Regions from separate parts of the Homo sapiens genome. Here all the other regions are linked to region 2. The links come from fine-mapping of genetic effects on gene expression. A gene starts in region 2. Each other region holds a variant in brackets. All regions are shown on one strand. Distances are between the middles of the regions.

Region 1 (4,092 bases), 42 kb before region 2:
TGCTAGTGAGAGAAATGCTCAAAATGAAACTTTCCTCTTTACTAATTAATCCACTCTTCAATCTTTATTTAGATACTCAACACACATGTGCGTGAGCATGTGTGCACACACACATACAGACACAGAGTGCCAATTAAGACATGAATTTTCCACTACCTAGAAAGACCTTCATATTTCTTTGATCCTTCAGACTGAGATCAGATGTCTTTTTCTGAAGCATTCCCTGACTCCTTGCCTTAGGGTAGTTAAGCTTTCATAATGTATTGTAATATTTCAGGACTTCAGAAAACTTTGCTTTGTGTAATGGGCCTACAAGACACCCTGAAAATGATGTTGATTAATTATCTTTGTATTTATTTACAGGATGGTTGGTTGTTATTTTCTGCCACTCACAGTCAATTTTCCCTTTTATTTTGATAAGAGCATCTTATTTTCTTCTGGGAAATTTTCCCTCTTCCGTTGTGTGTACTTGATGGGGTTGCCAATCTTGGTGGGGCTGCCAATCAGCCCCACCAAGGGGTAGGCATATGAGCCATGATGGCCAATTGGACTAAAATGGAACTATTTACCTGTTTAAGCAGAAGGGGATTTATTACAGAGAATGGAGTATCCAGTAATTATTTGCAGAAAAAAATAATTGTTATATAACAAGTAACAGTCTGCAAAGAGAACTGTTAACATCAGGAAGCCACGGAAGTGGGAACCACGATGCCAACTTCTGATTGTCGTTGTAATCATTGGTACCAGAAATATGCATGTTAGCTGTGACTGACAGATAAGAAACCATGGCCACAATTGTTGGCCCCAGAGCCATGACATGCCTGCTGGGACTGCACCAACAAAATGGATGACCCATGCCATCCTCTCAATATCTAACAAGTGGCTAGCTACTGGGATTTCAGCTAAAGCTGTTGCAGAAAAATCAACCACCTTGCCATTTATGTTCTGCACCAGAAATTGCAGAAGCAGCACAAATGTGGCCTCCACCTCACTTCTGCCTTTCTGATCTCACATGAACACATGTGACTAGCTGAATATTATTAAGTACCTTCTGGAACACTGTCTGCAAACTAGACTATGGAATATAATGTTTAGCTTTCTGGCCTTAACGATGACTGAAGGGACTCTAGATGAGGGCAGAATGGATATTGAATATCAATCCACTATATAAACAATGGACTATCCCCCCAGGCTCTTGAGCCCAGTGGTTAAAGAGCAGAAGAAAAATGGTTGGAGCCAGTGGGTCCTCTTGCAATATCCTGAAGACTAGCTACCTAGATCCTCCAAATGCCCTGATTCCTGTCCTTTTAGGTTTCTGCTTTTGTAGATTTCCCTTTGGGTCTGGGAGCCCCCACCAGGACCTTATAATTATTTCCCTTTTACCTGTAGTTAGTCAGATTTGAGTTTTGACATTTGTAATCAAACCACCTCAATGGATACATTTAGGAACTTAATTGTCAGTGTTGGCATCCTCAATTCTTGCAGAATGAATTTGGTTGGCCTTAACTCTGCATCTAGAGAGCTGGCTGCTACCGATGTGAATAGCACCCTTGGAATTCTAGTTTCTAGAATCAAAAGTCAAAGAAGTCCTTGGATGTCATCCAATCCAAACTCTACTTTTTTTTTTTTTTTTTGGTTATCAGACACATTCCTTTATTATTGACATAGAAATT[C/A]TTAAGATAGTTCATGTAGACAAAAAGTACAATTATTTTAACAGCATAGAAATACCTTTGAAAGAAGAAAAGGTATATAAACAACTCTTGAAAAAAAATTTTAGATTTTAAATCGTTGCCATTATTAACTAAGAGTTTTATTGTAGAATTCATAGCCAGACTTGTCAAAATCTGTAAATATCTTATAGAAAGTTCTGTGATAAGGAAATTCATACTCAGTGGAAATGCTTTGGGGATTTTTAATGCGGAGATTGATCTTAATTTTTCAAATTACAACAGGCTTATCTATCAAAGCTTAATGAAATACAAACTTTGCGAATGATCCAGCCACAATCTTACATGCTATGCAGATTTCCAAATGCATTCCATGTCCTTCCACAAAAACACTTCCTGATGAATAATGTTTAACTTGGTCTTTTATAGTAGTGGTCCAAAGACTTTGAAAAATATTCTTAAGAAGCTACTACAGGAGCTTCCAATTTAATGAATTTTAACAGCTGTTTCTGCCACTAGGCCTATAAGTGGAACTTGATTTCCCTTGAGTCAATTCCATTAATTTGTTTTTATTATTTTAGGATAGCGAATATGCTTCAGCTGGCTGCGTTCAGAAACTAGAATTGGTGTGGGTGGCACAGCAACTCTGGTTTCAATCAGTCTTCCTCTGAGGGCTTCCCCTGAAGACCACCCAGATGGATGGGTGGTGCAAGAGCAAGCAGGGCCACAGTGTGAGTCGGGGGCACATGGCTCCATTCTGCACTCACGGGTGGGGCATTTCTGCTAAACACTTGGGAGAATTTCTCAGGAGATCAGGGCACTCAACAGTTTTCTGAAGTGGTAGAGCAATATTATTTCCTCTCAGCTTGCAAAGTGCACAGACCATCCCTCGGGTGTTTAAGCCCACACCTGCTGGAATGCACTTGGAATACAAGGTCAAAAGGACAGTGCTCAAAATGCAGCTAGGCTTCAAGGGGACGGAAGGTGACTTCAGATTCTATCTTAGTAAATTAGGGATAATAATATCTGCCCTACCAATTTCTCAGGGCTATTATATGTATAATATACAGATATAAAGACAAATATATTTTAAAAATAAATATTGCTAAGCATTTCAAATAATTTTAGACAGAGGCTAATACTAAGCTTACCTAAAAATGTTGTGCCTTACAGACCATCCCTCTCTCCCTGTGGTGAGGTTGAAGTGAGGTTTATTTTTTCCAATTATTTTATTGCCAAAGGTGAATTTCTAAAGGAGAAAAGTTAGGATATTTCCTTGAGAAATCTGAGCAATTGGGTCAGCACAGATTCTCTGAATTACTTATTTCTGATCATCAGTGCCCTTTGTCATCAGGTCATGGGCTCTATGGGAGTGCTAAGGAAAGAATCAAGTTGTACAATCATCTTGGCTCCACATGGTTTGTATTTGGTTACATCTTTATCATAACAGCTTAGTGCTTGGGTTTGCCTGACTCATAAGCTCAAGCTTTCAGAAGCTGATTACTCTGTAATGGATTGAATTGTAAATGGCATCTCAATGAGTAAAATAACTGTTATTTTCATTTTTATTTCCCCGTATCCAAACCTAATTTTTTTGTTTGATTACTGTTGCTGATTTTTGGTGTAGGCAGAGCTGGAAGATGTGGATGTGGCTAGAGGATTAAAAATATTGTTTTTTCCTGGTTTCAAATATTATATATATTTACTGTAGAAAACATGGAAAAAGCTAACAAATTATGATGAAGTTAATAGAAACATCCAAAAATGTCACCACTCAGAGTCATTCATTTGTAAGATTCTTGTTTAATTTTTTTCTTTTATTTACTATATAACTATATACTTCTTTTTTATTTAAAAAAAGTACTATTCTGTGACCTGTTTTATTGCTTGTGTTAAGCATATTTGTTCATCTGTTAAGTATTTATTGAGTGCTTTCAACTATACATTTCTAAGTCACTACAAGATATTCACCATGGTTCATGTTTTACTAACTTGTGATCAACAAAGGATGGGAGGGATATAGCTTTTTTTTTCTTTTGTATGTGTGTCACTGATTCAGCTCAATCATACATCTGAGTTATCCCTAATTGGGTTTCTAAAGACTCTTAAATTTGAAGAATTCATAAAAATCAGCAGGTATGATCATTGTTTTTGTCAGTGAGTATGTGAGTCACTTTTATATTAATTTTTTTCAACTTAAAGAATGACTAGCCATCACTACTGAGTATGTAAAGAATCTGTAGTACAATAGATAAATACCTCATGGCAACAAACTCTCTTTTCTACAACTTTAATACTTTTAAATCATACAATATTTTTATAAAAAATTATCAGAAAAACCATTATGTCCACTTTTTCCTTTATAGTCAATACATTCAACAAACATTTTAAAGAACCTTTAACATACAAGACACTGAGCAGGAGA
Region 2 (4,092 bases):
GCAACCCATTGTTTAAAAAAGCCCAGGACTCAATGAAATGTAAGGACTTTGCAGCATTATTCACAATAGCAAAATCATGGAGTCAACCTACGTGTCCATTAAGGGGTGATTGGATTTATAAATGTGGTTTTATATTATATATATACACATATATATATATATATATATATACAAAATATATACACACACACTATGGTGGTATACACACACATACACTGTGTACCTATCACCTGAAAAACTGGGAAAATTTTTTTTTGATTCAGGGGTACTACACACACACACACACACACACACACACACACACACACACAATGGAATACTACCCAGCCACAAAAACAATGAAATCATATCTTTTGCAGCAACATGGATGGAACTAGAGGCCATTATCCTAAGTGAAATTACTCAGAAACAAAGTCAAAAACTGCAGAATCTCTTATAAGTGGCAGCTAAACAATGGGCAGGCATGAGTATCCAGAATGGAATAACAGACACTGGGGACTCCAATAGGTGGGAGGGTGGGAGGTGGGTGAGGTAGGAATTACAACTTATTAGGTACAGTGCACATTATTAGGGTAATAGGTGCGCTAAAAGCCCAGACCTCACCACTATGTGTTATGTCCGTGTAATGCGACTGCACTTGTACCCCTGAATCTGAAATTTTTTTTTAAAGTGAAGACTTTGAAAATCTGTTTTTCTCCTTTTTGTCATTAAATCGCTAATAAAAATTCAGCCCATCAACTTAAAAGTCCATTATTACAGTGACATACAATTACTTATTTTCTCTTTTCTTGTGGAATTCTTCCTCACTCCTTTCTCCTCTAATTTTTTTTTTTTTGAGGTCTTTATAAAATGTACAGACTCTGGGATAGCTTCATGAAAAGGTACTTTGTGTACTTTCGCGATTTTCCTCCAGTTAGCACAAAAACAAACAGGACTATATTCCTCCTCCTCTGAAACTTAATGGTCTCATTCAACATATTTTACATGGGCCTCATTTTTAATATAAGTTTATGTATGTAACAGTGTATACAAATGTTACATGAGCCCCACTGCCACCATGTGGTTTAAAAACCCAAGAGAGTTGGTTGTAACATTCTCTAGATGCACAGTGAGGAATAGACCCTCACTATACTTTCCATCTCTCAACACAGAAACTGCCCTTGTCCTCCGTGAATTTGCTGGTGAAATTCCTCTGGGGGCAGAAGGAAAGGGAAAAAGCCACATGGAGATCTCACAACTCCAGAGCACAGCAAATAATGCGGTGGGGTGTACATATATATTTAGGAAACCATATTGCACCCTTCAGGAAAAAAAAATGTACTCAAAAGGTGACGAGAGAGCATTATCTTCTTGGGTGATCAAGAAAGCTCCCTTCCCAAAGACCTGCAGATTCGGAAGGTATAATCTCTGTCCCTCGAAACTCGATTCAACCCCTGCCCCCAGCATCACGTGAACTGGCAAACTAGATGTAAGTTATGGCCCCAGAGTCCGGGAGGGGCGCGTCGACGAGCTGCTTCGGGGTCACATGTCTTCGTAGAAAGGCATTGGTGTGACAGAGGAGGGCATGTCCAGGGTACGTGCGCCTGTTTGAGCTCTGGGAGGGAAGGCGAAGTGGAGAGAGCCTGCAGTGAAAACAGACTGGAAGGATGGAGGAAAGGGAGGGGAAGGAAAAAATGAACACCTCCCTGAACTTTCCTCTCCCCTCGTCCCACACACTTGAAATAGAAATAATAACATGAACAAAAATGCTTACAACCACGATGTTATCGCCCTACTTAAGTTGCCTCACTATGGAGGGTATGGGGTATAAAGTGCAGACTGCGGCTGTGTCGGGAGTAAAGGTTCGGGCTAGTGTGCGTGCGGGCGCGGGTGACCCCACCTTTAGGGAAGCCGGCGCCCAACTATCCAGGCAGTAGCCCCGGCTGACCCCCTCCCTCCTCCTTCCCTCCTCTCTTCCCTCCCTCCCTGCGTGTCTCCTCTGCACCGGCCCCCGCCGCGGAGCCAGGCGGCAGCACCGACGCCGCCGCAGCTCCTGCCCGCATCGCGCTAACCCGCGCCCCCGGCTCACACGTAGCCGGAGCGACTGAGCCGGCAGCCCCGGGCCCACGCTGCGCACCGTGTGCACGGCGGGGCTGGCTGAGCTGACCTGCGCTGGGCTCCGGCGCCGCAGGCGGCTGGGGAGGGCGGCGTGGGAGAGGACGCTGAGACGCAGGGGCGGCCGCGCCGAGGTGACAAGCTGCGCACCTGGAAAGTTACCCGGCTGTCTGGTGAGGTTCGTGGGCCGGGGGTCTTGGGCGCCGGGGTGTGAGGGCGCGCGGGGAGGGACGGGGTCGGGGTGCGCGCGTGTGCATGCTGTGAATGCGTTGCGCGATGTGCGCCTCTATTCCACACCCAGCCGGTCTCTTGCTTGTGCTGTTCGAGTGTGGACGTGTGTACGCGTTGCATTCGCTCGGTGTGGCAGCGTTTCGTGAGCTCCTGGAGGCAGGGAAAGGCTACTTGTGTTTAGAGGTTCTGTTGAGGGCGGGAGGGGCTCAGCCCCAGTGGGGAGTCCTCAGGGTTCTCTAGGTTTAGCGAGGAGAAGCGGTGGAGGCTGTTGCTCCGAGCTAGGGGCTTGGCGGTGCTGTCAGGGCTTGCGCTCCCGGCTTTGCTTCGTCGAGCTCTGGGTAGTTGCTAGGGGACAGTCCTCAGGCAAGGACTTTTAGGAGTCCTGGTAAACTTGTGTGGGTGTCCTTTTGTCACTCTGGGCACCGTGAGGCGCTTTCATATTTCTGTATTTCTCGGTGATGAAGAAACAAGAGCAAACAAAGCCCAGAAACCAGCCACTTTGGGGATGAGAAAAAAAGAAATAGGTTCAGTTCTGAGAAGAACTACGGTGCAACTACGAAGCAGCTGAGGCCAGAGCTGACAATAAAAGCAACGCATGCAGAATTAGTAGGTAGGAAGGGTGACGCTGGGACAAATGCCTTGATTTCCTGATCTTCATCTTGTTCCCCAAGTTCCCAGGGGCTTTTTCCTTCTTCTTCTTCTCCTTCTTTTTTTTTTTTTTTTTAAGGAAGAGAGCAACATACACCTGCCCCCACCCCACCACACCCCCATATTTAGAGTTTCTTAGAAATTGTCTCTTTTCTTTGCAAGTTTCTATTTAACTCATGAAGAAGGCGATCATCCCACATAACATACACTAGCTGTTTTCAGTACTCCTGTTTAGTTTTGCACAGGAGGGTATGAGCTAATATGGTAGAGAATTCTCTATGGAGAATTAGAGTGCATCCTCTCCGTTGGAACGCTGTATGACTAAGAATAAACGACCTGAAAAGATGATGCCCAGGGATCTTTCTCTTTTACGTGAAATCCTTAACTCCAGTTCTATGAAGTCATTACAAGTGAGGCTAATGAGAATTCACCTCACAGTGAAGGCATATGTTGCCTGGCTGTTGCCCAAGTCCTGTGATCCCTTATTGTCTTGCTTCCTCTAGGCTATTTTTCCTATGAATTATCTCTTCTTCTCCCATGTTTTCGTTTTTCATATCTCCTGTGCTTCATTATCCTGGAGCTACAGACATTTTCAAATTTTCATTATTTTAAAAATCCCTCACATGAATCATGATATCGTCTTGCAGGCTCTACTCTTAGTGTCAGCTCTTTCCATGGTCCCTTGTAGTTGAGTGTCTATCCCCACTCTTTGACAAATCAGATTCAGCACTTTTCTCTCTGATCTCATTTGCTGTGACAGGCCTGTGGGATGTGAGGTACAGCCTGCTCACCTCTTAAGGATCTTATCTGCATGGCCTTTCTGATGCTTCTCCTAAATCTCTTATTGGTACACGTGTTCCTTCTCCTTTGTGGTTTGCTTCTCCTCCTCTTCTCCCACAAATAATATCCACAGATATTACCTATATGTTCATAGGTAACAATAGAGACATTCCTTTCTTACCTCCCTTAGTGATCTCATCTACAAATGGTACTTCAAGTCTTCTATGGAGCAATCTCTTCCCTTGAGTTTTCTTTTTTGCTTCTACCTGCTAGACATTTGCATCATGATGACCCACAAGCATCTCAAACTCAATATATGTAAATCCAGACTCATTACTG
Region 3 (4,092 bases), 61 kb after region 2:
GTTAGCTCTTCTTGCTGAATTGATCCCTTTACCATTAAATAATGGCCTTCTTTGTCTCTTTTGATCTTTGTCGGTTTAAAGTCTGTTTTATCAGAGACTAGGATTGCAACCCCTGCCTTTTTTTGTTTTCCATTTGCTTGGTAGATCTTCCTCCATCCTTTTATTTTGAGCCTATGTGTGTCTCTGCCTGTGAGATGGGTTTCCTGAATACAGCACACTAATGGGTCTTGACTCTTTATCCAATTTGCCAGTCTGTGTCTTTTAATTGGAGCATTTAGTCCATTTACGTTTAAAGTTAACATTGTTATGTGTGAATTTGATCCTGTCATTATGATGTTAGCTGGTTATTTTGCTCGTTAGTTGATACAGTTTCTTCCTAGTCTCGATGGTCTTTACATTTTGGCATGATTTTGCAGTGGCTGGTACCGGTTGTTCCTTTCCATGTTTAGTGCTTCCTTCAGGAGCTCTTTTAGGGCAGGCCTGGTGGTGATGAAATCTCTCAGCATTTGCTTGTCTGTAAAGGATTTTATTTCTCCTTCACTTATGAAGCTTAGTTTGGCTGGATATGAAATTCTGGGTTGAAAATTCTTTTCTTTAAGAATGTTGAATATTGGCCCCCACTCTCTTCTGGCTTGTAGAGTTTCTGCCGAGAGATCTGCTGTTAGTCTGATGGGCTTCCCTTTGAGGGTAACCCGACCTTTCTCTCTGGCTGCCCTTAACATTTTTTCCTTCATTTCAACTTTGGTGAATCTGACAATTATGTGTCTTGGTGTTGCTCTTCTCGAGGAGTATCTTTGTGGCGTTCTCTGTATTTCCTGAATCTGAATGTTGGCCTGCCTTGCTAGATTGGGGAAGTTCTCCTGGATAATATCCTGCAGAGTGTTTTCCAACTTGGTTCCGTTCTCCCCATCACTTTCAGGTACACCAATCAGACGTAGATTTGGTCTTTTCACATAGTCCCATATTTCTTGGAGGCTTTGCTCGTTTCTTTTTATCTTTTTTCTCTAAACTTCCCTTCTCGCTTCATTTCATTCATTTCATCTTCCATTGCTGATACCCTTTCTTCCAGCTGATCGCATCGGCTCCTGAGGCTTCTGCATTCTTCACGTAGTTCTCGAGCCTTGGTTTTCAGCTCCATCAGCTCCTTTAAGCACTTTTCTGTATTGGTTATCCTAGTTATACATTCTTCTTTTTTTTTTTTTTGAGACGGAGTCTCGCTCTGTCGCCCAGGCTGGAGTGCAGTGGCGGGATCTCGGCTCACTGCAAGCTCCGCCTCCCGGGTTCACGCCATTCTCCTGCCTCAGCCTCCCAAGTAGCTGGGACTACAGGCGCCCGCCACTACGCCCGGCTAATTTTTTTTTTGTATTTTTAGTAGAGACGGGGTTTCACCGTGTTAGCCGGGATGGTCTCGATCTCCTGACCTCGTGATCTGCCCGCCTCGGCCTCCCAAAGTGCTGGGATTACAGGCGTGAGCCACCGCGCCCGGCCTATACATTCTTCTAAATTTTTTTCAAAGTTTTCAACTTCTTTGCCTTTGGTTTAAATGTCCTCCCGTAGCTCAGAGTAATTTGATCGTCTGAAGCCTTCTTCTCGCAGCTCGTCAAAGTCATTCTCCGTCCAGCTTTGTTCTGTTGCTAGTGAGGAACTGCGTTCCTTTGGAGGAGGAGAGGCGCTCTGCTTTTTAGAGTTTCTAGTTTTTCTGCTCTGTTTTTTCCCCATCTTTGTGGTTTTATGTACTTTTGGTCTTTGATGATGGTGATGTACAGATGGGTTTTTGCTGTGGATGTCCTTTCTGTTTGTTAGTTTTCCTTCTAACAGACAGGACCCTCAGCTGCAGGTCTGTTGGAGTACCCTGCCGTGTGAGGTGTCAGTGTGCCCCTGCTGGGGGGTGCCTCCCAGTTAGGCTGCTCGGGGGTCAGGGTCAGGGACCCACTTGAGGAGGCAGTCTGCCCGTTCTCAGATCTCCAGCTGCGTGCTGGGAGAACCACTGCTCTCTTCAAAGCTGTCAGACAGGGACATTTAAATCTGCAGAGGTTACTGCTGTCTTTTTGTTTGTCTGTGCCCTGCCCCCAGAGGTGGAGCCTACAGAGGCAGGCAGGCCTCCTTGAGCTGTGGCGGGCTCCACCCAGTTTGAGCTTCCTGGCTGCTTTGTTTACCTAAGCAAGCCTGGGCAATGGCGGGCGCCCCTCCCCGAGCCTCGCTGCTGCCTTGCAGTTTGATCTCAGACTGCTGTGCTAGCAATCAGCAAGACTCCGTGGGCGTAGGACCCTCCGAGCCAGGTGCGGGGATATAATCTCGTGGTGCGCCGTTTTTTTAAGGCCGTCCCAAAAGCGCGATATTCGGGTGAGAGTGACCCGATTTTCCAGGTGCTGTCCATCACCCCTTTCTTTGACTAGGAAAGGGAACTCCCTGACCCCTTGTGCTTGCTGAGTGAGGCAATGCCTCGCCCTGCTTCGGCTCGCGCACGGTG[C/A]GCGCACCCACTGACCTGTGCCCACTGTCTGGCACTCCCTAGTGAGATGAACCCGGTACCTCAGATGGAAATACAGAAATCACCCGTCTTCTGCGCCGCTCACGCTGGGAGCTGTATACTGGAGCTGTTCCTATTAGGCCATCTTGGCTCCACCCGCTCTTACATTTTCTTTCTCTCTCATCCCAACAGGAATACTATGACAAAGGAGATTACATCATTAGAGAGGGCGAGGAAGGAAGTACCTTTTTCATTTTGGCAAAAGGAAAGGTAACTATTAATTAAAACTTACTAAATAAAAAAGATTATTTTAAATCAGTTTGCCATAAACTCAACTATGCTTTGCATTGCAACATAGGTCCTCCACTTTGGACAGATAAAGGAGCTTCTACCAGTAGAGTCCCATGCAATTCTGTTTGAACACTGGCTTTGGAGTGGAGGCCACAGGACCCCCTAAGAAATAATAACTTCTTAGTGATGTTATGTAGGTCACTTGATTTTTTGGGGAGAGACCTAGCTTAATTGTATATGAGATGGCTGGATTATTTATAAGGTCCCTTCTGGCTATGACTATGTGATTCTCAATCATCCCCAGATTCCAAGATCAGTACTAGAATATTTTCTTATCCAATAGATATGACAAGTAGCAGGTGGAGAATGAATTCAGCAATTGAAGACAGTCATGATTAGGTATCAGGCTTATAGAACCAATATGGCTCAGAATTTCAATTGATACAAAACAGCTCAAGTGAATTTAGATGCTGATGCAAAATTTATACTAACATGTACAATAAGTCTTTTTCTTTACCTAGATATTGAATGGATAACATGTTGCCAGTTGTTCCAATGTTGACTCAACAGTATTACTCAGAGATGAAAAGCATTTGTGAAATATTGAAGGGAAGGGCCAATTCTTGAGCACCTGTGTGTATAAACTGTCAGATTTTTACATATGTTATATGGAAGGGTTTACCATCAGGGAGTCAGGCACTGCCATTTGTAAACTGGATTGTGGTTGAACTTTGAATTTGGCCCCAAGTGAAGGAAAAACATGAACAAAATAGTTTCAAACCTCTGAAACTCTTCAACACTAGGAACTACTTCTTGTCATTTTTTCCCAACCTAGACCCCATACTTTGAAATAATTCTTGGTGATAAAAAATTGCATTTTTTATTTTTAAAATTTTAATTCATTGTGACATACATAAATGCCAAACAGAATTTCTATTCAGCCTGAATCAGCACTTGTTACCATGTTGAATTGGAATAACTCTAGCCACAAACAGGGCTTTTTCTGTTTGGCCCTGCTGGGTGGGGGGTTCTTAAGCCTTTCTGGGCAACAGATTGCTTTGAGATGCCCATGAAAGTTGTAGACCCTTCTTCAATCAACATTTTGCATTCAGTTTTAGGAGGTGCACAGGATTCGGCCAGTCAATCTATTGATACCAGACTCAGAACTACTGATACTCAACCTTATTTTTGATTAATTTGTCAACTATATTAGGCTTTTTAAAATAGAAAAAGTTCCCACAAGACCATTATTATTTGCTTTGTGGATCTCTCAGAAGGAATCACTGGATTCACATTTAAAATTTAACTTTAGGAGGTGGAGTTTAGATGGTGAA
Region 4 (4,092 bases), 55 kb after region 2:
AGAAGTTTGTCACTCGTTAACATAACTGTCCAGGAAAGATAGTCCCAATTGGCTCCACACAGTCATTTGGGAATCCAAGCTGATGTCTACTCTGCCATTTTCAACATGTGGTTTTCCAGGTTTGTGTGGGCCATGCCATTATAATTGGGGAAAAAGTATAAAGACACATGCATGAAAGCATGCATGGGCTTGGTGTGGAATTGTCACAGATCACTTCCACTCAGATTATTTTAGATAAAAGTTCATCACATGGCCATAGCTAACAGCAGGAAGGCTGGCAAGTGTAACTTACCTGGACAATCATATATTCCTCTGGAAGACTTTCGTGACCAGCTTACAGCCTCTTTCGTAAGATTAACAGTCACCGGGTACCTGGTGTGCACTAAACATTCCATCAGGTACTTTAGATACACCGTCTTAACTAGTCCTCAAACAACATTAGGTGTAGTAGTAAATATAATCTTAATTTTACAGAAAATGAAACAGAGGTCCAGAAGATGTAGGAAACAGCTGAGCAAATCATTATCATCCTCCTTCTTAGCATGGCAACAATTAATTGTGCATTTACTATATTTTAGATGCTCCTACTATTTCAGGCAACATTGCCTTTCATTGGCTTATTGTGGTAGGCAGAATGGTCCCCTGCCCCACCCCCCCTTCCAGATATCCAGATTCTAATCCCTGGAATGTATGAATATGTTATATTACATGGCAAAAGGGACTTTAATGGTATGCTTAAAGTTTGGGACTTTAAAATAGATTATCATTAATTGGCTAGGTGAATGAACTATTGAATATAGTTGCATGAGCATAGAATTATTTCTGGTTGGGGTCAGAGAGATGCAGCAGAAGTGAAATCCAGAGAGACTCTGAGGGTAAGAAATGAACATGCCATCACTGGTTCTGAGATGGAGGGGGCTCTCTGCAGGGATGGGAGAGACCTCATGAGCAGTTCCCACTGTCAGTCAGTAAGGAAATGGGATCTTATCCTGCAGGTGAATCCTTCCAGCAACCTGAATGACCTTGAAAATGAATTTTCCCCTGAGCTTCCAGAATGACATAAGCCCTATTGATACCTTGAGCTCCATCCTGAGAGACCCTAACTGAGAAACCTAATTGAGCAACACTGTGCCTAGGCTTTCTGACTCACGGAAACTGTAAATAATAAAAGGATGTGGCTCTAAGCCACCAAGTTTTTGGTTGTTACAGCAGCAATAGAGAACTAATGCGCTTTCCTAAATCTTTGAAGATATGGGTTGTTACTTTAATTTTATGGGTTGAGGAAAGTAAATTTCTTGTAAACTGGGATTTGAATATAGACCTGTCTGGCTTCAAAGAACTTTTTAACTCCAAAAATATTATGCTTCCTTCCATGAGATATTGACATATCTTATAAAATGTACATAGTGTTATGAAAATAAAACGCATGTTTGTTAGTATTAGGAGTAACATTTATTCCAGAAAAGTAAATAGGTTTTAAGAATAAATGATCAAGAAAGTATTGAAAAACAACAGATAAAAAAGTAGTTTAGTTTGGAATTTATTTTCAAGTCTAAAAGAAAAACAAGAGAGAGCAATTATGTGGTTAGTTATGCCTTTTTAAAAATTAAAGAAGCCACTTTTGTTTGTATAAATAATTAAGAGATCCATCTTAGTTCTGTGACTTTAAGACAAGATCAAATTAAAGCAAAGTAGAGGTGGACAGTTTAATCTATCCTTTGTTTTCTGAGATATTTAGTCGCTCTTTTGGTCTGACAGGTGGATAGATTACTTTTCCCTCCTCAAGAATTTTCTAATCACATAAATATTTACAAGAGAAACAGATGTTAATAAATAAAAAGAAATATGCAATAATTTAAGATTTCATGAGGATAGATCTAAATTAAATAATAGAATTTACACATAAAAATTTCCAATGTCAATGTTTTATGATGACAAATCTTTGGATATTGCATTATGACAGCACTACCTACTGTGAATGTAGAATCTTCCAAGAGGTTGCTTTTCAAGGAATTAGAAATTAAGGGTAATTTTCCTAATATCCATTGGGGATATTATATAATCACTTGTTCTTTTTCTAGAGCCCAGACTCAATTTTTAGAATGTTGCTGATCACCAAACAGTTTATATTTAGATTATGCAGGTGAAAGCTGGTGATTGTTGCCTGGCTCTCATTTCTCTTTATATCTTTGGACCCCATGCCTGAAATTCAGTATTCCAGGTGAATTTACTCTGTGAAAGAAGAAAACATAAGTGCAGATAATAAAGCAAAAGTCTCCTTACTTTTCTACAGTTTATGACTGCAATGTAAGAAAAGCTTACAGTTTCAATAGGCAAAAACAACAACCAAACAAATGCTAAAACAGGTGTG[T/G]AATACTCATTTCAAAGACAAAAGGAGTTCTGCTTTCTTTATGTCTTCAATTATGTGTCTCCACTTGATCTTACATTATCTTTTTATTTATTTATTTATTTTTTATTATTATTATACTTTAAGTTTTAGGGTACATGTGCACAATGTGCAGGTCAGTTACATATGTATACATGTGCCATGCTGGTGCGCTGCACCCACTAATTCGTCATCTAGCATTAGGTATATCTCCCAATGCTCTCCCTCCCCCCTCCCCCCACCCCACAATGGTCCCCAGAGTGTGATGTTCCCCTTCCTGTGTCCATGTGTTCTCATTGTTCAATTCCCATCTATGAGTGAGAATATGCGGTGTTTAGTTTTTTGTTCTTGCAATAGTTTACTGAGAATGATGATTTCCAATTTCATCCATGTCCCTACAAAGGACATGAACTCATCATTTTTTATGGCTGCATAGTATTCCATGGTGTATATGTGCCACATTTTCTTAATCCAGTCTATCATTGTTGGACATTTGGGTTGGTTCTAAGTCTTTGCTATTGTGAATAGTGCCACAATAAACATACGTGTGCATGTGTCTTTATAGCAGCATGATTTATAGTCCTTTGGGTATATACACAGTAATAGGATGGCTGGGTCAAATGGTATTTCTAGTTCTAGATCCCTGAGGAATCGCCACACTGACTTCCACAATGGTTGAACTAGTTTACAGTCCCACCAACAGTGTAAAAGTGTTCCTATTTCTCCACATCCTCTCCAGCACCTGTTGTTTCTTGACTTTTTAATGATTGCCATTCTAACTGGTGTGAAATGGTATCTCATTGTGGTTTTGATTTGCATTTCTCTGATGGCCAGTGATGATGAGCATTTTTTCATGTGTCTTTTGGCTGCATAAATGTCTTCTTTTGAGAAGTGTCTGTTCATATCCGTTGCCCACTTTTTGATGGGGTTGTTTTTTTTTCTTGTAAATTTGTTTGAGTTCATTGTAGATTCTGGAAATTAGCCCTGTGTCAGATGAGTAGGTTGCAAAAATTTTCTCCCATTTTGTAGGTTGCCTGTTCACCCTGATGGTAGTTTCTTTTGCTATGCAGAAGCTCTTTAGTTGAATTAGATCCCATTTGTCAATTTTGGCTTTTGTTGCCATTGCTTTTGGTGTTTTAGACATGAAGTCCTTGCCCATGCCTATGTCCCGAATGGTAATGCCTAGGTTTTCTTCTAGGGTTTTTATGGTTTTAGGTCTAACGTTTAAGTCTTTAATCCATCTTGAATTGATTTTTGTATAAGGTGTAAGGAAGGGATTAAGGAAGGGATCCAGTTTCAGCTTTCTACATATGGCTAGCCAGTTTTCCCAGCACCATTTAGTAAATAGGGAATCCTTTCCCCATTGCTTGTTTTTCTCAGGTTTCTCAAAGATCAGATGGTTGTAGATATGTGACGTTATTTCTGAGGGCTCTATTCTGTTCCATTGATCTATATCTCTGTTTTGGTACCAGCACCATGCTGTTTTGGTTACTATAGCCTTGTAGTATAGTTTGAAGTCAGGTAGTGTGATGCCTCCAGCTTTGTTCTTTTGGCTCAGGATTGACTTGGTGATGCGGGCTCTTTTTTGGTTCCATATGAAGTTTAAAGTAGTTTTTTCCAAATCTGTGAAGAAAGTCATTGGTAGCTTGATGGGGATGGCATTGAATCTGCAAATTACCTTGGGCAGTATGGCCATTTTCACGATA
Region 5 (4,092 bases), 44 kb after region 2:
TGAAACCTCCTAGGAGAGGATGAGAAACTGATGTAAGCCTATCTCGTTCCTTCCCAAGTAGTTCTGATGAAAGGCTCAGGGAGAGAAGAGGTTGAACAGAAGTCAGTATCAAAACAGCTATTGAGATCAGAGTTATGGCACACATGGAAATGAAAATTGGATGGTTTCTTATTTGAATTAATTGTAGTGTCACCCAAGGACTGAATTGCCTGGTTTAATTATCTGGTTGAGCAAATTAATTTGATAATTAAAAATATTCCCTTTATGAAACATAGCATGAATAGCAAATAGTAAAAGCATATTTAGCTTTAACTTTTGATATTCCATATAATTCTTCAGCATTGCTCAGGCACAATGAGCCATAACCAATTTCAAGATAAAAACTTGAAATGCATTAAGATTCATGATATCAACTGGACACTACCACTAAGTGGCTTTGATAGAATAGAATTTAGCTAATGAGAAATTTTAAATTGCATGTCTAACCTCTAGGATTTGGAGCCAGAACTGAGTGTTTTTTTTCCTTGCTAGTATAAATTCTATCAGGCTAAGGATATCTTCTCTTTTGTCCTCTCTATGGCTCTGGCACTTGGAACAGTTCCCAGCACAACATAGGTACTCGGATCAGTTTTGCTGAATGAAGGGATGGACAGAGATGATACAGAGCTACTTAGCAGTGAATTAGGAAAAGGAAAGACTAATTCTTTAAGGAAAGGAGATATTACCCCATCACTTTTTTTTCCTCTAAGAACTTAGATCTTTTTTGCTTATGCTTTTAGTTGGTTAAGGTTTTGTTTGTATTTGTTCAAAGCAAAAGAAGAGTAAAGCTGCCAAGGCAAAAAAAGAAAAATAGTGAAGGGGATGCAAACTTCTGCCTCTCCCTTCCTCCAGTCTTTGCCCAGGTAATAAGTGCCAAACACTCTTCTTAGTGATTTTCATTTGTAACTAATATGTATTACATTTAAATAAATTAGAGGTTAGATAACAATTGAGGCACCATGAAGTAACTTGCCCAAGGTCACATAGGCAAAAATGAGTTGAATCAGGACACAGCCAGGCAGTCTGATTCCAGGGCTGATCTACTTACTGGTTATGACGGGTTGTCATTCCATCATTGTGAACAATTTCTCTGTGTTTTTATGACATACAGTGATTGTTGAGCTCCTCATAAAAGAGAAATAGTTTCATGTATTACATTTCTCATAGGTTATAATGAATTTTAAACAAAACACTTGCCATCCACTGCTTCAGGAAAATAACATTGTAAAAATAATAATATTAATAATAGCTAACACACAGCATTTACTATGCACTAGCCATTGTTCTAAATTCCTTACCTAGATTAACTTATTTCATTCTTGCCACTGTAAAATAATAATAATAATTATTATTATCCTCATCGTTGATGAGGAACTTCAGACAGATAGCGTAAGTTTCTCAAGGCAACCCAGCTAATAGTAAGTGGCAGAGGTGATTTCAGTCTACACTTTTAACTGGTGTATTATAATGAGAATCATAAAATATCTTACCTGTATACTTTGTGTGCTTTATGATTGTTTTATTTTACTAATTTATAGTATCTACACGGATTTCGATTATTTGTGTGTGTGTTTTTTAAAATTCT[G/A]CTTGATAGAGGGTCGACTAGAGGTGTTCCAAGGGGAGAAATTGCTGTCCTCCATCCCTATGTGGACCACATTTGGGGAGCTTGCCATTTTATACAATTGTACAAGGACTGCCTCTGTGAAAGGTAATAAAAGAGGAAATGCTCCATCTTTGAATTGTTGTGGCATGTTAAAGATAATCTAGTCCAGTCACATTTGCACCCTGATCCACAGTCTGTTTCCCATTTTACCCTATATGTTCTTATAATAGAAATGCTATGCCTATTAAGGGATTTATACTGAAGCACTTACCTATATAATTTAAGCTAAAAAGAACTTTTCTGGATACCTGTGTATAAAATGTAAAATGGCTTTTAACTATTCACAACGGTAAAGACATGGAATCAATCCAAATGACCATCAGTGATAGACTGGGTAAAGAAAATGTGGTATGTATACATTATGGAATGCTACACAGCCATAAAAAGGAACAAGATTATGTCCTTTGCAGGGACATAGATGGAGCTGGAAGCCATTATCCTCAGCAAACTAACACAGGAACAGAAAAGCAAACACTGCATGTTCTTACTTATAAGTGGGCGTTGGACAATGAGAACACATGGACACAGGGAGGGGAACAACACACACTGGAGCCCAATGGGGAGGGGTGGGGGAGGGAGAGCATCAGGATAAATAGCTGATGTATGCGGGGCTAAATACCTAGGTGTTAAGTTGATAGTTGCAGCAAAGCACCACAGCACACGTTTATCTATGAAACAAACCTGCATGTCTTGCATGTGTATCCTGGAAATTAAAATTAAATTAAATTAAAAATAAAAATAAAAATAAAAAGGTTTGTTCTGCCAAAAACAATGGCTTTAAGCTGACTGATTCCATATTTGCTTTAATTGCCACTTTACTTTTTACTACATAGACACATGCCTTTGGCTCATCTAGAATGTTTGCTTTCTAGCTAGTCTCAACGAGGTTCTGACCATATTATAAGCCAGAGAAATTAATTAAACCAATGAAAATGTATCTATATCAAAAGGAATATGAATTAGAGTAATTAGAGTATTCATGAATGACTTTTGGGATTACTTTACTTGCTTTTCTTTAGATTTGTTTTATTGACTTTATGGCAATCTTGGGTTTCCTTCTGAATTACATAGATATGATGTTTTTCAGTGTTTGGGACTAGTTTATATGTGTTAGCCTTGCTGAGGTATTTGATAAAAATGCAGATTTTGGGTCTCTACTCCCAACCTGAATCAGAGTCTCTGGCAATGGAGCCCAGGGATCTTGTATTTCTAACAAGAATATCAAGATGATTCCAATGTAAAGTTTGGTAATCCAGAGCTTTGGGTTTTGATCAATTTTAGAGGCTTTGTTACTCGTTTTTAAAAAATTGTACAACCACAATTTCATCTAGATTTTTTAGAGCCACCACTTCTGGCCCACTTTCTTTTTAAATTTTATACTTGCCCTTAAGTCTTTACTGTAAAAAAAAATTATCTCAAAAACTTTCTTTCATAGTCTCTTTCAAATAATTTGTAGGCATTTTACACAAAAGTAACTGTAGAGATTCTTAAATAATATGTAGCTTCTTTAGCAACAGTGTCAGAACAACATAAAAAGACACATAAAAACACACACATACACACAGATAGCTTTAACTTTCAATTATCTGTTTGTGACTTCACTCTCCAGATTAGCTACAAATTGACTGCCTTTCTCTTGTATTACAGCAGAAATCTAGAGCACATCCTGATGATCTAGTGCATAATTGGGAATTGCAAACTAATTTGAATATCATCCTAACTGTAACATAATTAGAAAGGAAATTTTTTGCTAGTCATTTCCAAATAATAGTGTATTTCAAAGCCAAAATGATTTATAAAATTGCTCACTATTTATTTTTCTGTCTCCTTCATTTGTATGTTTAAATAATACATTTTCCAAGAAGTACCATTTTATAAGAACATATAACAAATCCATCGATTTATATTTTGGAATGTTTTCACAATGTTGTACTAAGTGTTTTATTGTTTTCTTGAATTTTCTAAAGCTATTACCAATGTTAAAACATGGGCACTAGATCGAGAGGTATTCCAGAATATAATGAGGAGGACAGCCCAAGCTAGAGATGAACAATACAGAAACTTCCTCAGAAGGTAAGAATAATACATTGGGAGACAGTGAAGACAGTGGAGTCGCCATATTGTGAATATATTGGTTTTATCAGAATAATTATTCAACTATAGCTACTTCCATTTAAGCATTTTCCACATGACTAAACCAAAGGAACATTGCTTGCAGTAAATGCCAGTACATACCAAAAACTGTATTTAATTTCTATTATCCTTGTATACTCATTTATTTCTCCTGCTAGTTTTTGCCCTTGTATTGATAGAGTGATAGTGCACAGCATAGAAAAATGTGCAAAAAACCTAAATTATTAATTGGGTTGCTCAGTTGGCTTTGAAAGGCA
Region 6 (4,092 bases), 73 kb after region 2:
AAGAGCAGGGTTATAGTTAGAATTTTTTCAAAATGTAAGGAATCTATTGCCCAGGGATATGTGGAGGAGGGGGTTGGGTAGGTCTCTAAATGTAGTAATAGTGATTAATTTTTTGTGTGTACTAGAAAACTCTACTTTTGTTAAATGAAAATTATTTGAAAGTTGTTTGCTGAAACATTTTTTTAGAGTGAATGCTTAAGCACATGTTCACTAGATAGTGCTATCAAAGCCATATAGTCAAAATTCTTAGAAAACTTAAATTTGAATTAAATTAGAATATTCAATCAGTACTTCATATGTTTTTGCAATTTTTACGCTGAAGGCCTTTTGTGGTAATAATTTATGAATATGTAACCCAGACCGGTAAACCTTAATTAAAAGAGAAAAAAATGGATATTACTTAGACATAAAGTAAGAAATGTACTTTTCATATTTCACAAAGCAGTTATTTTGGTTCAGCCATGCAAAGCTTCAAGATCTGATAAAACTAGCAAAACGTGGGAAAGATTGTCAATGTGGCATTCTCCTGTACATGCAGCAAAGGAAGTGGCTTCCTTGTTTCATTCCCATTCATTGACTGCTTTTCATGGTTGTTTTTTAACAGCTTTTTTGAGGTATATATATTTTTAGTTAAAAAAAATTTCCACACTGAGAAGAAACCTAAGAGGTACATTTTAAGTACCACAAACTATACCCATTTTACCTCTCATTGATTCAACTTGGCATTCGTCTATTTCCTGGTATATGCATATGTGTGAGTTTTATGTTTGTATATTCTATTGTTTTCTCGCTGCGTGGGACTGAATCTGATCCATAAAAGTTGGGATAGCCTTTGTGGCAACTATAAATCATAGTTACAGCAGAAATTAGACTGTCGTAGGAGTGAAATTTATGTATGGCATGACACCTTCTTAATTATGGGTGTGTGTGTGTAAAGTTTCACTTCTCTTGTACAGGCGGTCCATGTCTAACTGGAAGCTGTCCAAAGCACTCTCTCTGGAAATGATTCAGCTGAAGGAGAAGGTGGCCAGATTTTCCTCATCATCCCCATTCCAGAACCTTGAGATTATTGCAACACTGGGCGTTGGTGGGTTCGGAAGAGTTGAGCTTGTAAGGGGTTTACGTTTCAAGCATCTGAGAGAAGCCTTTTGACTTTTTTTTTGTTTTATATTCCAGCATATCTTGGAGGAATATATGAATTGTTACTGCTATCTTAAATGTTGCTTTGAACTGAAATTGAGAAAGTAAACTTTTCACTCTGTATATTGTATAGTAGCAGGTCTGTGCTAGTAAGTAACTTGTAATAATCAACTGCTAGTTCAAGCTTACATCACGTCTTTTGTGAATTTTCTTCTCGATGATTATCAATATACTAAGTAAGCACGTCCAAAAGGAAACATAAAATAATGTATTTTCTAACAGCAAATGCGTGTCTATATACATTCATGACACATTTAGTCTCTATACACTAAAGAAAAGAAGAATGTGTCAAGTGAAAATGCCATAGAGGTGAAATATTCAATGTTATAGTTGTGTTCTTTAAACAACTCCAGTACCATGTCTGTATTTCACCTTCATTATTTTGTTTTTGGGTTGCTCAAAATTTCGTATTGTGAGAAAAGAAAAGAAGATGAATGAAAGGGAATATTTGAAGAGAAGCCTTCTGTAGTGTTGATCAGGATATCTGGGAACTTACAGCCTGATTTTAGTTGTGCCTTCCACATCACCCTCTTTCTGAGCTATCAGCTTCCAAGGAGTAGCAAAAGTGGTACTGTCAAACAAGTATTCT[A/G]AGGAAAATGTGGAATAGAGATCTGTGGCCTTACTGGGTACAGATGGCTCTGAGGCCTTGGCAATTACCGAGTCCTTCTTTGCCCATCAGATTTTTAAGGATTCACCATACCTTATCTTCTGGGAACTCTGCTGACCTGTTGGTCTGCTGGCTGGCTTTGGGCATGAGCAGATTTGAAATGCTGTCAGGGGAGTCTGGACAGTACACTTCAGACCCAGTCCTTGCTTCATCTCTGATGGGGGCAGGGACAGATGTTCCTTAGGATAAATAATGTGTGTAATGTCTCTTATACCTTATGGAGAGATAAAGATAATACCTGTCTGCAGTGGTATTTTTCGTCAAAGTTTGTGGCAAAAGGATTCAATTAACAAAGCTGAGATCTGTTTTCTAATAATAATTGAAGCAGTAAATCCACCATTGATTTAAAAGTCATGGGCAGCACTAATGGCAAACATGAGCAAAATATGGAGTGCAGCCATTTCTGCACAATGTAGTTACTTATCTAGCATAGTCTGCTTATGGAGTTTTAAATCTATCAAAAAATTATTTTAAAATGTTTATTTCCTTTTTAGGAAATACTTGATCGTGCATCTAGAGTAGTACTGTTTAATAGAACTGTGCTGAGGGAAATGTCTTATATCTGTGCTATTTAATAGGGTAGCCACTAACTAGATATGACTGTTGAGCCTTTGAAAAGTGGCTAGTATAACTCAGGAACTGAATTTTTAATTTTATTTAATTTAAATTTACATAACCTCATGTGATTTGCAGTTACCATATTGGATGGTACAGATATAGAGCTTAGGCTGGGTGCGGTGGCTCATGCTTATAATCCCAGCACTTTGGGAAGCCAAGGTGGAAGGATTGCTTGGGCTCAGGAGTTTGAAATTAGCCTGAGCAACATAGTGAGGCCCCACCTTTATAAAAAATACAAAAATTAGCTGGGTGTGGTGGTTTATACCTGTAGTCCCAGCTACTCAGGAAGCTGAGATGGGAGGATAGCTTGAGCCCAGGAGGTCAAGGCTGCAATGAGCCCTGATTGCACCACTGCATTCTGGGCGACAGAGTGAGACCCTGTCTTAAAATAATAATAATAATAATAATAAATCTTGCTTTGAAAGCAAAGTGAATAATAAAAAAAGGCAATTCTAGTCAAAGTTTTTAATGTCACCCAATTAAAAATAGAATAGCTATCTAAATATTAAGTCTAACAGAATTTTATTTTGCTTTAATACAAAAATTTTAGAGCCACATCCCAGATAGATGAACTATTCTAGAAATAGTGATGAAAGGGAAGTGTGTACACTTGAATGAAAGTTCTCAAAGGGATAAGTGGCTAAGGGCTTCCATACTAATTAAACATGAAACAGTTTTAACTCTCATTGATTAGTGTGTTTTATATAGATATAAGTTAATTTTGAGGTATCTTTCCATTTCTTACATAGGTTAAAGTAAAAAATGAGAATGTTGCTTTTGCTATGAAGTGTATAAGGAAGAAGCACATAGTTGACACCAAGCAGCAGGAGCATGTCTACTCAGAGAAGAGGATCCTAGAGGAGCTGTGCTCTCCATTCATTGTGAAGTAAGTGACCACTTGGCTTCCAAGGAGTTAGGATTTTCAGGCTCTTTATTTATGTATTTACTTAAATTATTTTTATTTTTATTTTTAATTTTTGTGGGTACATAGTAGGCATATATATTTATGGGGTACATGAAATGTTTTGATACAGGCATGCAATGCATAATTACAGCATGGAAAATGGGGTATCCATCCCCTTGAGCATTTATCCTTTGTGTTACAAACAATCTACTTATACTATTTTAGTTATTTTACAATGTCCAATTAAATTGTTACTATGATGCCCCTGTTGTGCTATCAATTGCTAGATCTTATTCTTTCTTTCTATTTTATTTTGTACCCATTAACCATCTCCCCTTCCTGCATGTCTCCCCACTACCTTTCCCAGGCTCTGGTAACCACTCCTCTATTCTCTATCTCCATGAATTCAATTGCTTTGATTTCTAGATCCCACAAATAAGTGAGAACGTGTGATGTTTGTCTTTCTCTGTCTGGCTTATTTCACATAACATAACGACCTCCAGTTCCATCCATGTTGTTACAAATGACAGAATCTCATTTTTTTTGTATGGTTGAGTAGTACTCGGCTCTTGTTTTAAACTTTCCATGCAAGATGACAGAAAGAAGAGGTGGAGGAGGCCCCACTCTGGATTCTCCAACCCAGTCACAGCAACAGTACTAAAAATGTTAGAAGTTTGAGATCTGGGGTCAGATGTTTTCCAGT

Alleles and levels. Positions count from the first base shown, and alleles are read on the strand shown. Sizes are in standard deviations (SD) of each study's normalised expression. Not every link is listed here.
As copies of G replace A in region 5, the expression in thyroid of the gene that starts at base 1,981 in region 2 goes up (small effect, 0.35 SD a copy in GTEx).

The links.
Region 1: its variant is fine-mapped to the expression of PRKG2 in lung (TOPMed, PIP above 0.99).
Region 3: its variant is fine-mapped to the expression of PRKG2 in whole blood (TOPMed, PIP 0.98).
Region 4: its variant is fine-mapped to the expression of PRKG2 in whole blood (INTERVAL, PIP above 0.99).
Region 5: its variant is fine-mapped to the expression of PRKG2 in thyroid (GTEx, PIP 0.94).
Region 6: its variant is fine-mapped to the expression of PRKG2 in esophagus mucosa (GTEx, PIP 0.99).

What each region holds. Positions count from the first base shown.
Region 1 is chr4:81,254,708-81,258,799 of GRCh38, reverse strand. No RefSeq gene overlaps it. Among named protein-coding and RNA genes, the nearest start is that of PRKG2, 42 kb to the right of the region's middle. The variant C/A (reference allele first, on the strand shown) is at 1,674.
Region 2 is chr4:81,213,111-81,217,202 of GRCh38, reverse strand. It overlaps PRKG2 (protein kinase cGMP-dependent 2), which reads left to right and starts at 1,981. Exons shown (of 19, transcript NM_006259.3): 1 at 1,981-2,267. LOC124900726 (a long non-coding RNA gene) reads right to left here and starts at 2,317. Exons shown (of 2, transcript XR_007058162.1): 1 at 2,245-2,317; 2 at 979-1,638. RefSeq lists enhancers at 1,948-2,448, 2,449-2,949.
Region 3 is chr4:81,152,289-81,156,380 of GRCh38, reverse strand. PRKG2 (protein kinase cGMP-dependent 2) reads left to right here. Exons shown (of 19, transcript NM_006259.3): 7 at 2,660-2,737. Among named protein-coding and RNA genes, the nearest start is that of PRKG2-AS1, 11 kb to the left of the region's middle. RefSeq lists enhancers at 1,889-2,402, 2,403-2,917. The variant C/A (reference allele first, on the strand shown) is at 2,471.
Region 4 is chr4:81,158,499-81,162,590 of GRCh38, reverse strand. All of the region lies in intron 6 of PRKG2 (protein kinase cGMP-dependent 2), which reads left to right. Among named protein-coding and RNA genes, the nearest start is that of PRKG2-AS1, 4.4 kb to the left of the region's middle. The variant T/G (reference allele first, on the strand shown) is at 2,372.
Region 5 is chr4:81,169,346-81,173,437 of GRCh38, reverse strand. It overlaps PRKG2 (protein kinase cGMP-dependent 2), which reads left to right. Exons shown (of 19, transcript NM_006259.3): 4 at 1,634-1,747; 5 at 3,670-3,775. All of the region lies in intron 1 of PRKG2-AS1 (PRKG2 antisense RNA 1), which reads right to left. Among named protein-coding and RNA genes, the nearest start is that of PRKG2-AS1, 6.5 kb to the right of the region's middle. The variant G/A (reference allele first, on the strand shown) is at 1,625.
Region 6 is chr4:81,139,812-81,143,903 of GRCh38, reverse strand. PRKG2 (protein kinase cGMP-dependent 2) reads left to right here. Exons shown (of 19, transcript NM_006259.3): 11 at 957-1,110; 12 at 3,235-3,371. Among named protein-coding and RNA genes, the nearest start is that of PRKG2-AS1, 23 kb to the left of the region's middle. The variant A/G (reference allele first, on the strand shown) is at 1,790.